3 linked regions of the Homo sapiens genome follow. The protein of the gene in region 3 interacts with the protein of the main gene of each other region in a pairwise test. Each region holds a gene or a part of one and is shown on either strand. Other genes may lie near its edges. The genes, in order: LBH, IRF4 and PROX1.

What was found.
Region 1: the proteins of PROX1 (region 3) and LBH interact in a two-hybrid assay, tested with the Homo sapiens proteins (one large-scale study listed by BioGRID and IntAct).
Region 2: the proteins of PROX1 (region 3) and IRF4 interact in a two-hybrid assay, tested with the Homo sapiens proteins (one large-scale study listed by BioGRID and IntAct).

What each region holds. Positions count from the first base shown.
Region 1 is NC_000002.12:30,230,125-30,234,424, reverse strand, and holds the start of LBH (protein LBH), read right to left. Parts: upstream 2,892-4,300; 5' UTR 2,687-2,891; coding exon 2,661-2,686; intron 21-2,660; coding exon 1-20. UniProt on the Homo sapiens protein: Transcriptional activator which may act in mitogen-activated protein kinase signaling pathway.
Region 2 is NC_000006.12:408,719-412,059, reverse strand, and holds the end of IRF4 (interferon regulatory factor 4), read right to left. Parts: 3' UTR 617-3,341; downstream 1-616. UniProt on the Homo sapiens protein: Transcriptional activator. Binds to the interferon-stimulated response element (ISRE) of the MHC class I promoter. Binds the immunoglobulin lambda light chain enhancer, together with PU.1.
Region 3 is NC_000001.11:214,001,352-214,005,000, reverse strand, and holds part of PROX1 (prospero homeobox protein 1), read right to left. Parts: intron 1-3,649. UniProt on the Homo sapiens protein: Transcription factor involved in developmental processes such as cell fate determination, gene transcriptional regulation and progenitor cell regulation in a number of organs.

The sequences.
Region 1 (4,300 bases), on a different chromosome or scaffold from region 3:
CCGATCTCAGATAGTCGGGGCTGCCAAGAAACCCAGACCAAAAGTCAACAAACACACGCGCTTTCACATTCCTAACTCTTCATGCATTCACTGCTGTGGGATCAGGGGACTGTCTGGAGACAGGAAGAGAGGTGTTCAAAACAGAACTTGCAGCAAAACAAGCTCACACCCTGAGGAAGCGCCTTGCAAGCCCACAGCCCCAGGGCTCAGCCGCAACAGACAAAGCCCATTGTCTGCAGACCTCTCTGGCAAACCTCTTCCCTCCTCTCCTGTACTCTAGTCCCCACTGGCACAGAGGGACCCTGAATGTTTCTTTAAATGACAGAACCAGAGAAACCAAAACAGTAGGTAGCTGAGTCCATCTGTCTATATTAAAACCAATTCAACCACATCTCCCTTCACTTCTCCAACTAAGAATAAAAATAATCCTCACATGAACTTTCCAAAGGGGAACTCTATATATTATTAATACACAATAACAATAACAGGTCAACTGGAGGGAAACAAAGTCCAATCATACAGCTTTCCTAAATTTGTCTCTCTGGTGCTCCTTTTGGCAAAATGTTCCACTTAAAGCCCCAAGGGGTCAGCTTTTCTGCAAGTTTCACATCTGCCATCCATCCCCTTTCTCTAGCCCCAGACACAGCAGCTGCATGCTCACAGCTTGAAAAACATCCCCTGGATTAAAAGCCTTAAGGATACCCGACTCTGACTGCAAAGGAAATTTCCAGAGGGGCCAAGCTGGCCCACCAATGGCTGACATGTGAAAGTGCCTTGTACTCTCTAAGCAGGATACGAATATTCCCTTATCCTTGCACAAACTCTGGGCACATACAGGATCCCGTGCACATAATGCTGAACATAAGCACCAAATACAGGTACCTGCTACACAGCACCCAATGCTTTCCACCATCGTGCCTGTGCACATGGTTTAAAACAAAAATATGGGGGAGTCTTTTGAGGGACAGTATCTAAGGAAACAGGGGTACCAGATGCCTCTTCAATTGTATGGTTACTACATAGATAAGAAATGACACTGGATTTAGAAACAGAAGCAATAGGTTCTAGGCTCTGCCCCTCAAGAACTGTGTGATCTTGAACAGGTCCTGTAACTTCTCTGAGCCACAAGTGTCCTGTTTGTCTGTTACTCTGATGCTAATAGTGCATACCTCACAGTTAGGTTAAGGGCTAATGTCTGCATAAAAGCATTGCAAGCTGCAAAGTGCTAATCGATGAAATAAACTTAAACCTTAATTTCTCATAATATTCTTAATGGGTCCAAACACCCACCTTGGCAAATTTTGAGCAGCCAAAGGCACAAAGCCTCCAACAGCCTTCAAAGCTTCACCTATAATAAGGCACCTAGCTGCTCACACACCACGGGAGAGGCAAGGGAGGGGCACCCACAAGAAGGGTACACAAGCCTCGGGGTGGGGGAACTTGAACTGTTGAGAGAGGGAAGTTCAGTCCCCTCTCTAAACACTGCCAGGCTGGGACGGATGGGGGCAGGGAGACTAACAGAAGATGCGGGGCTTTGCGGCAAGTTTAGGTTCGGGAGCTGGGCCCTGCAAAGGCAGTTTCCTCCCGGGTCTTGGAAAGGCTGCTGGCGACCTCCAAAGAAAGGAGCCAGAAGAGCGCACGCAGGGTGAAGAGTCTGACGTAGGGGCGGCTCTTCCTCGCTCGGGGCTGTGGCGCCGGCCCGAAAAGTTGAAGCGAGAAGCATGAACTTTCCGCTTCTTGGGCCAGGCCGGACCCCGCCGCGGCTTGCGCCGGTTTTCCCTTCGCTCAGCGCCTGCCGGAGACTCGGGGCCGAGCTCCCCACGTCCGCACCTGAGAGCGCGCTCCGGGGCTGCCGGCGCTCGCCCCCGGCCGCTTCTCCTCTAACCCAGAGCAGGAAGGAAGAAACTGCCAGCAAGGAAGTCCCAGCAGTCAGGGGCCTGCCTCTCTCTGCATCCCTCCCGGCTCCGATCCCCAGTCCGGGGCAAACCTCCGACGCCCCGCGCCCGGCCCGGGCTCCTTCCCCTTCAGCACGGCGAAGGCGGCTCCTCCCAGTCCCGGCCCCCACCAATGTGCGTCGGTTTTTAGGGGCGGTGGAGAGGGCAGGGGTTGAGAGGCTGCAGCGCGTGCCCTGCTGCTTGTGGCTTTAGTGGGGTTACGTGTGGGGAGAGCGTTTCCCGCCCCCCACCCCCCCGGAGCTCTGCAAACCCTGCGGCCGCACCAGCTCAGCCCCGCTGCTGCCGGCCTCGACGTTGAGACTTGCATGCAAACAAAAAGAAAAAGAGGAGGGGCCCGGGAAGAGCAGGAGCCCCCCTGCGCCAAGTGGGGCGCGCGCCTCCTGCAGCTCTCCGCATAGGGTGGTTTCATTGGGGGGGATTCACACGTGACCCCTGGCTCCCCCGCCAACCAATACAAACCCTCCGGCCGTCACTTAGGTGAGGGCTCCGAGTTCACGTCCTTTGTCTGGATGTTCTCAGCACCCCCTCCCCCCACCCCCACCTTTGCAACCTTGACGTTGACTCCTGCACGGGCTCGGGCGGCGGGTTAGCGCTGAGCGCCCGCGCCGCCGGCTGCCCTCGCACCCGGAGCCGGCACGAAGCAGGCGCCCGGGCCCGCAGCCACCGCCGCGAGACAGACGCCCGCCGCAGGCGCAGGGTACTCACCAGTGAATGGGGAAATATATAGACATGAAGTCCTAGGGCAGGCTGACACACGCCCCTGTGATTTAAAAACGGTCCCTGCGTCCCGAGTGAGGATGACACGGGCGCAGACGGGCACGGCAGGCGGCCGAGTGCGGACACCGGGCGCTCGCCGTCCGCCTTCCCAGGACAGCCCCACGGCTAGCGACGTCGGCAAGGTGGACACAACTCCCCGCTCTCCACTGAGCACTCAGCCCCACAAAGAGCCCGGGAAGCCGTATTTATAGGGGCGGGGGCGGGGCTTGGCCCCGAGAGGCCCCGCCCTCCCTCGCCCACTCCTGGAATAACGTCACCAAAATCATGAATGGCTTCAGCGCTCGCAGCTCCGGCGGGCGGCGGCTCGGGGGCGCGCTCGGCTCTGCTCCCGGGGCCGTGGTTCGCTGCGGCTGCGAGCCCGGCCCCCTCCCGCCGCTCTCCCACGCGCACACGCGCTCACTCGCACCGGCCCGGACTCCGCGTCCGCGCCGCTTCCCGCTCACAGCCCCCTCCACGCACACCCCGAACTCCAGCGCGGCGGAGGTGGGCGCAAGGAGGGCGCGGGGGCCGCTCGGGACATGACAGCTCGGCGGCTGCTCTGCGCCGGGGTAGGGCACCCGCCACTCCTCCACCCCAGCCGCCCGGCGCCAGCGCCCTCCTTCCCATCCACTGGCTGTCCCCAGCCCACCTCGGACCCCTCTGAAGCGTTTGTTCCCCATACTAGGCCTCTCTCTGGAATCCTCGCCCGCAGCCTTGCGATCAGCGAGGGGAAACAAGAGCATGGTTAAAGAAGAAGCGGTGGGAAGGTGGCAGAGACGCGGAGCCGGGGGACCGAGTGCCCACGGGGCGCGTTGGCTTGCGAAGGGCTGGTCTGCAGCCCTGAGTTCCGTGGAAGGTTTTATTTGTGGGAGCAAGGATGTGGTGTCGTCCTGGGTAGGATTTTTCCATTGGAGACACACATACGCCCGGTCTGCAGCGGGGGCAGAAGGTGTGGGCGGGCGGTGTGCACGCCGCCCCCCATCCTTGACTCCCACGTCTTCTCCGAGGAGTCGCTCATGACAGCAGAAACAAAGAGCTTTAGCCGAACGCCTCCCACACTGCCCAGGAATTGCAGCTCTGGGCGTCTGTCCAGGCAGTCAAAGCTGCGCAGCCCCCCAGAGCCACATGATGGGAGTCTCACTCGGGACCCAGCGCTGCCGCTCTGTGGCCTCCGCTTCAATCACGCCTGTAAAATGGCTTTAGAACCCTCACCTACCTGTGTATAGGGGCTGAGGAAAGGGGGCGCGGGGAGATCAAAAACTAAGCAAAATTAAATTGGCTTTGAAGTGAATCAGCTTTTTAAAAGAAAGGCAGTGAGTGTATTGAATCCGTATATATGTACTTGAAAGTGGAAACGCATAGCTTATCTCAGGCAAAAGGATGACAGAATTAATGGCGAAGGTTCGACAGGGGTAGGACCCTGAAGGAAGCCGTGAGAGAAGACCCTCATAATTTTCATCAGTCCCCGCAAAACCAGCCCAAACAAAAATTATAAGAATTGATGAGAATAATTTATTTAAAAATAACTGGGCTATTTTCAATCACTTATATGCTTATATGTACAACCTGAGTTAAAATAGTGTGCTTCC
Region 2 (3,341 bases), on a different chromosome or scaffold from region 3:
TGCAAGGATTTTAGCACCAGCAGCTGCAGCCTGGTTCTTTGAGTTTTTCTGCTGGACTGGAAGTTAGTAGGTGCATAGGAGCTGAGCCATGTAATCAGTAGAAGCGATGAAGCTGAGAAAGGAGACTCCCTTGCCTGGCTGCTCAGAGAGAGGAAGAGTTTGGAGCTGAGGTCAACAGCAGACGTACGGATCCCCAGGGGTTCCATCTAAATCCTGTTCTCTTTATCCAGTTTTCCATTTGATTTTCACATTTGGAGTGTTAGTTAACCTATATCCCTTCTTTTTAGCAATGACCAAAATCAGAGGAGCTTCGAATATAAACAAAAGAAAACATTAAAAACAACTTCCTTGAAAGCCCTAAACCTTTTAAAGTACAGATAAAGGAAGAGGAGGCAGATGCTAACGGGAGAGCAGGATGATTACTCTTCACAGACACTCCTCTGTGTGGGAGGAGCAGCCCGGCACTTGGCCAGCGTTTGTCTCTTTAACAAGGTGAACACTTGGAGATCTGATTTCAGAGACACGTACAGCAGCCTCTCTGAAGGAACGTAACCGCAGGAGAAAGTGCTTTAAAAGCTATCAGGATGCATGTTTAATAACACACACACACATTCCATAACAAATTTTTAAAAGTTTTTATTTACCTAAAAACATAAATTTATCAAACATATCAATTTGCTTTGCAGAGCAATTTACATAAAAATTCATGATGTATACCAACGACAGCATAGCATTATCTACCTCAGTTTGTGAAGCATCCTTTCCTACAGATCTCAGCAAAACGCAGAGCCAGTAGGGGAAATTCAAGCTTTCATTTGGGGGCCTCTGGGGTCCTACCTGCTGGCAGTTCTTTCAGCAGAAAGTGGGGTACGGGGGATGCTGAAGAGGGGGAAGTGGACCCCATTGCCTGTTAAGTCCCATCTGTCTCAGTTTGAAGCAACACGGGAATTTCCATTGGAGGAGGGTTGGCCTGCCGGCCTGGCCCTTCTCTCACGTCCCCTCTACTTCAGCTACATTTCTTATGCATGTTCCTCAAAGCTGTGAAAATCAATACAAAAAAAAACTGACCTTTACTTCATTCCTGTAACAGGCTATCAGGATCTCAAGGAGATCCACCTGCATCGAGATCAGTCTCAAAAACGGGGCATGTAAAACATAACTTACAAAATGGTGTGTAAGGTCTGAGAGCCTTCACGCACCATTCAGACAGATGCAGCTGGCCACAGAGGACTTGGGGAGATACGTAATACAAATAAAGACCTTAACCAATCCCAACACTTTCAGAAAAACTTTCACCTGTGGGGAAGTGGGGGCATGTGACTGGAGAGCAATGAACGGAAGTTTACACTGGATCTGAATTGTTACTAAAAAAGTAACTGACACGCACACACAAGTGGCCTTCCTGGCGGAGCATCAACAAAGCCAAGAGGTGCGAGTACCCAAGACTCCCAGAGTTGTTCCACCCCTGGGGCTAGCTGTATTTATGCCCTCGCTCAAAGACCAGCTTTTTCAAACACTAATACCTACCTGCCCTTGGTGGTAACAATACTGTAAGGGCTGCTCATTTCACTGTAGGATTTTACATTTTTCTCACCATGGCACAGTCTCTTTTTAGTTCATACCCAATAGTCTAGCTGGGTTTTCTGTAGGGCGACTAACTCTCCTGTTTTCGCTCAGGACTCAGGGGCTTCCTAGGTTTCAGTTGTAAATGAGTCGGTCACTTGGTTCTCTATAGTGTTCCAGGAGATATTAATTACTGCTTGAGGTTTTCCTAAATATACAAAATCTCAAGAACAAGACATAAACCAAGAAATGCACCTGGGAGACACATACATTTTTTCCATATGACCCAGTGCTCTTTAACAAGTCCTCAAATCTTCAACAGCACTGTCCACTGAGTACAAACTAAATTCTAGTTTGCCAATTCCACTTTATCAAGACAAGGAATGAGGAAGCCGTTCCTTTTCAGAGTCCTGAGACAAGTGCTAGGATTCCTAACCCTGAGTATTTCATAGCTAGTTCATTCCCTAGGTCATACCCTGGATCACTCAGAATTTTAAAAAGTCAACATACACATAGATGTAAAGATAGGAAAGGAGGTAGTGGCCCCAGCCAAGAAGCATTTTCCAGAAAATTCAGCTCCACTGTTAAAGCAGCATAATATTTAAAAAAACAAAGAAGAAGAAGTCACAAAGCAATTGAAATGGAGCATCCGCTTGGAGAATTAAGAAGACAGGGTGCTCCTGAGACAGACTTCCAAGACAGCTTCTTTGAAGTGCTGTGTGGGGTTAAATATTCTTCAGCAAAGAGGGTCACAGGTAAGGGCCCCGTGAAACAGCAGTTCTTAATATCATCTTTATCTTCCCTTAGGATAATATACCCCAAAATACTTTGCATCTATAAGATGTATACATCACTGCAGTTCACGAAACACAGTCTGCTGCCCAATACATATCCATGTTGCATGGCTAATGAAATGTCAAACCCTACTGGGTACATGGCAGTGGAGCTCCACAGCAAGGCCTCTGAGCAGAACGAGGTAAATCTTCACTGTTAGCTACAAAGAGCACTGCATGAAAGTGTGTGCAAGATGACTCCATGAGGTTTTCTTTTTAAGTTTATGTATATTTACAGAAAAGTGAAATGTGTTGGAAGAATAAACACCCCTTCTTGTGGACACTTTTAGAGAGGAGAATTTGGGCTGGGAAAAAAGGAGATCCTTTTTATTTTTTTGCTGTTCTCTACTGTTTGTCTTTTCTGTAGTTAATATTAATATTAATTGTATTAATATTCTGACTTTAATATTAGAAACTTTTTAAACATTAAAAAATAATGTTTCAGTGCTCACTGCTCACTAAGCTTGATAAAGGCTGAACTGTGTAATGTAGGGATACAGCAGGCACTTACTAGGTGCTTGTTGAATGAATTTAAAATATCCATTAGAAAAGCAGGAACACACATTTGAGAGCTACGCAATCTTCTGCTGATCCTGGGAGTAATAGTAAATATCCTGTAGTATGAGAAACGGCCTGGAGGTGACGCCCCAGTCTACTGCTGTACTTTCTCAAAACCACAAAAATGTAAGTGATAGGTATACTTAAGCAAGTGGAGGTCTTTGGGATTCTATAAATAGAAGCATTTGGAAAAAGCCAAGTAATTTTAAGGCCCTGTCAAACTATAATTGGCACGAGGAAGCATAGAACAGATGAAATAAGCAGAAACAGCCCACTGAGTGTGCAGTTCCGTAGTCAGCTCCATCCTGCTTCCAGTGGTGGGTCCTGGCAGTGCTCTCCAGCCTGGGAGTCCCCGGCTCCTCCTCCTTTAGTGTCGCCATGGCTGAT
Region 3 (3,649 bases):
ATTTGCTCAGTGACCGTCGCCTGTCAGAGGTTGCCACATGCAATGGTGAGGATGCACAATTGAGTTGCAGAATCTTGGCTACTTTAGGGTGAGGATGGCAAAATATTTTCCTTGCTTTAGGTCGGTAGGCTATCTATACATTCACTTGTTGCTAAGGAGACAAATGCACCCAACATGTACTACACAACTCTTGTCATAAGAGGTTTTTTTTTCTTCCTTGCAATTACAGTTCTGTTTGTTCTTCTCTCCACACTCTGCAGTTTAAAGCAAATTATTCTACTAATGTACATGAAAATATAAAATGCATTATTTTGAACACTGCTATGCAAGTTTCACATTTTACCTTTTAGTGTTAATCTAATGGAGCATCTTGACTCACTTGCTTTTTATCTTATTATATCCTTTTAATTGTTTTTCCTTTTAAATAATAGCTAAAACTTGGGAAGAGTAGTTTTGGCATGGAGAGGACAGGGAGGGGGCTGTTGCTTTTGTGAAAGCAATGGTCCAAAACCAAATACAATTTGCCTGTCTTGGATTTATAGTTAACTCCTTTGAGAGTGACGCAGTAGTTGGGGCTAACAAATCAATACATGTGGGTTAGCAGATCAATAAATGGCCACTTACCCAAAATAAGAAGGCCTATTTATCTGGAAACATCATTACCTTTTAGATCTGTAAACAGCAGCAACTAAAACAGTTCCCAAGAGAATGTGAGGCTAACCATAACAATCCAGGCTTCCTGATTCTCCCCCAGATTCTTGGCACTCCTCAGCAGACTCAGAGCTGGGATGGCTCTGGTCACATCTGTGCCGCAGCCTGGCCCTGCCATTTCCTCAGCAAATTAATGGCTTTATAATTTATCAGAAATGAAGATGCACGTGGAGAAAATCAATGTGGTCCCCCACAAGGTCAATTAAGGGCCCTTCCTAGAAGCTTCTCTAAGGATTTTCTTTTAGAAGAGTGTCTAAGAAAAATAAGAAAAAAAAGAAAAGAAAGTGTGCTTGTGTGTGCAAACACACACACAAACACACTCACACAACTACCCAACAAAAATTTCACCCCTTAGGCAGAAATGTCAAATAAACACAGATATTTAGGAAAGGTAAAATTTTCCAAATGACCTTCATCAAGTCTAGCGTGACTAATCTTAAGAATGGAGGGAAACCAGAAAGTTACTAGAGAAGCATAATCAAATTAATATGGATAAGCTCTTGACTACTTATAACAGGGTGTTTAACCAAATATTCTGCTGAGAATTTGTTCAATTAACATTCCCTTTAATATCCCATGCAATTTTAAAAAGATCACCTTGGTCTGTAAATAGAAAAGTTAAGTAGTGCAGGTTTTTTATTTTTTTATTTTTTGTTAAACTGAAAATAAACACTAAAGAAAGAAATTTTGATTTTATATCTGTAAGCCAAAGCAGCTTAACTGAACTTGTGTTTTTGTTTGAGATCCTTAATGATTACAAAGACGATAATTTATGACTGACATACTTCTTGTGCCAAGGAGAGGGCTGAAAGGCCCTCCAGTAACCTCCATTAGACTGATACAGAAGACTAAAGGAGCCCAGCACACTTCAGGACCATCTGTCCAAATGGATAAGTGAAATAATAGTTGCAAGCTGTCTGCGACTGCCTTGTGATAAGAGTTTTAGGCAAGTCCAAACTTTGACAGACACTCTCAGATCTGGGTTCTAATCTTTTCTTTCAGATGGCTACATTAAGACAACGTCATGCATTTAATTGGAAGTCACAAATCTTTTAAAATTTGGTGTCATACAAAATACAAAGTGTTTTTCTGTGTTTCTTAGATGGGCACTGAGCTACCAAAACTTCCTGAAGCTTTTAATACATCTAATTTATGCTAAGATGTTTTTGTTCTTTTTATCTAAAAAAAGTAAAATATCCATTTTATTTTGATCAGTATTTAGAGGCTTTTTATCTAACAAAAAATTATTCTGATTTGGATTTCTCAAGTTCATTTTTGCTTTAAAATGTTTCCTGTTGGTAATACTTGGAACTGATCAGTTGAAATGGAACACAGAATTAATCTTTATCTCTTGCTTATTGTGTAATTAAGATAAAATTCCCATAAAATATATGTTTCTAATAAACTATTAAAAATAACTAATGAAACATTTAAAAGGCAACAGTTAGATAATCCTTTTTTTCTCCTCAAAATAAATCTGAACTGACCAATTGGTTAATTTCCCTTTTAAGTGCTTGTGCTGAAAAGCAACTGTTCTTCCAAGAAAGCACTAGCTGTTTCCAGGATACTTACACACGCACAATGACTCATGATGGAATAGATTCAGTAAACATACAGCTGTACTGAACACGAGCTAAGCTCCATTCAAGGCCAGGAAAGAAAATGAGCACAAATAAATATTAAGGAGGTAAAGGGGAGTGGGGTGAGGGGGGATGGAACGCAAACAAGATCTGTCCCAGCAGCTCATGTGGCTGTGCCTCAATTCTCTTAGCCATAGCTTTGTGAAGACAGATGACATTCAATTCTATGTGTAATGCAAAATAGACAATAACTGTTGAAACTTGAGACAGCTGCCAGGTGTAAAAAAAAAAAAAAAAGAAAAAAGAAAAAAAAAAGAAAAGATGATAAATCCATAAATTAATGAAAGACATCTGCTCGGGAATATAAAAGATCAGAGAAGCAGGGTACTGCAGCTGAACGTAAAGCAGTGTTCAAACAACCTGAGAACCTAAGTGTTGTCTGTTTACCAAGTACAATATAACCTTACCTAAACAGCAGCCACGGGAGGAGCAGCGGAGGCAGCAAAAAGGCAAATGGGAGAATAATAAGCTGTGAAAGCGGAGGAAGAAAATTCTTTTTTTCCAGCTAAACTCTGGATTGTAGCTAGAGATTGTACGTGCTGCAGTTCCCAGCAAATGGGTTGAGACTACTTACATTTTCCAAAACATTTGAAACCTAAAGAATTTTAGTTCTGCCTTATTCCCTAATTTGCTAAGTTTCTAAGAGGTTTTCCCCCTAGAAACTAAAATGGGGAGAAAAGATCTAAACTCTCTCACATAATGACAGTGATAGAGCAAGTCGTAACTCCCACTAGGAAGTTCACCATAATCGGAGGGCTGTGTAGTGTAGGGATTTTTTTTTTTTAATTTACTTACTTTATAATTTTTTTCAGGGGAGGGGGGTAGTGTAGGAGCCCAAAGTCTTTTAGTCTTTAATCTACATGTTTTGCTCTAGCTAATATAAGTACTATAGCCTCCACAAGACTTCTAAAAATGTATAAGATCAATTTCTGTGGATGGTTTCAAATTTCAGAAATTCATTTCTAATCTATGGTTCCTGGTTGGATTTTAATTTCAAATTACTAAACCATTTTCCTTTCTAAACTTCAAGTCTTTCTAACATTCTCCCTAAAAGTTGAGTAGAAAAAGCCGGCTGTTTCAGAGAACAGGCTCAATTTCTTCACCTGCACGTCTTAACGGCTTATACTACTCCTCTTGTGCTTTAACTGGGTGCATGCAAATGTTTGGGGCCTAAACTAGGCTATTTTTCTTGAGATGCAAAGAGGATGAATGACAAGGAACATCATGAAGAAAAGCAATTGGCTGACTGTTTCTTTTGGAATTTGAATAAAACTTAATATTTGATTAAACAGATTCAT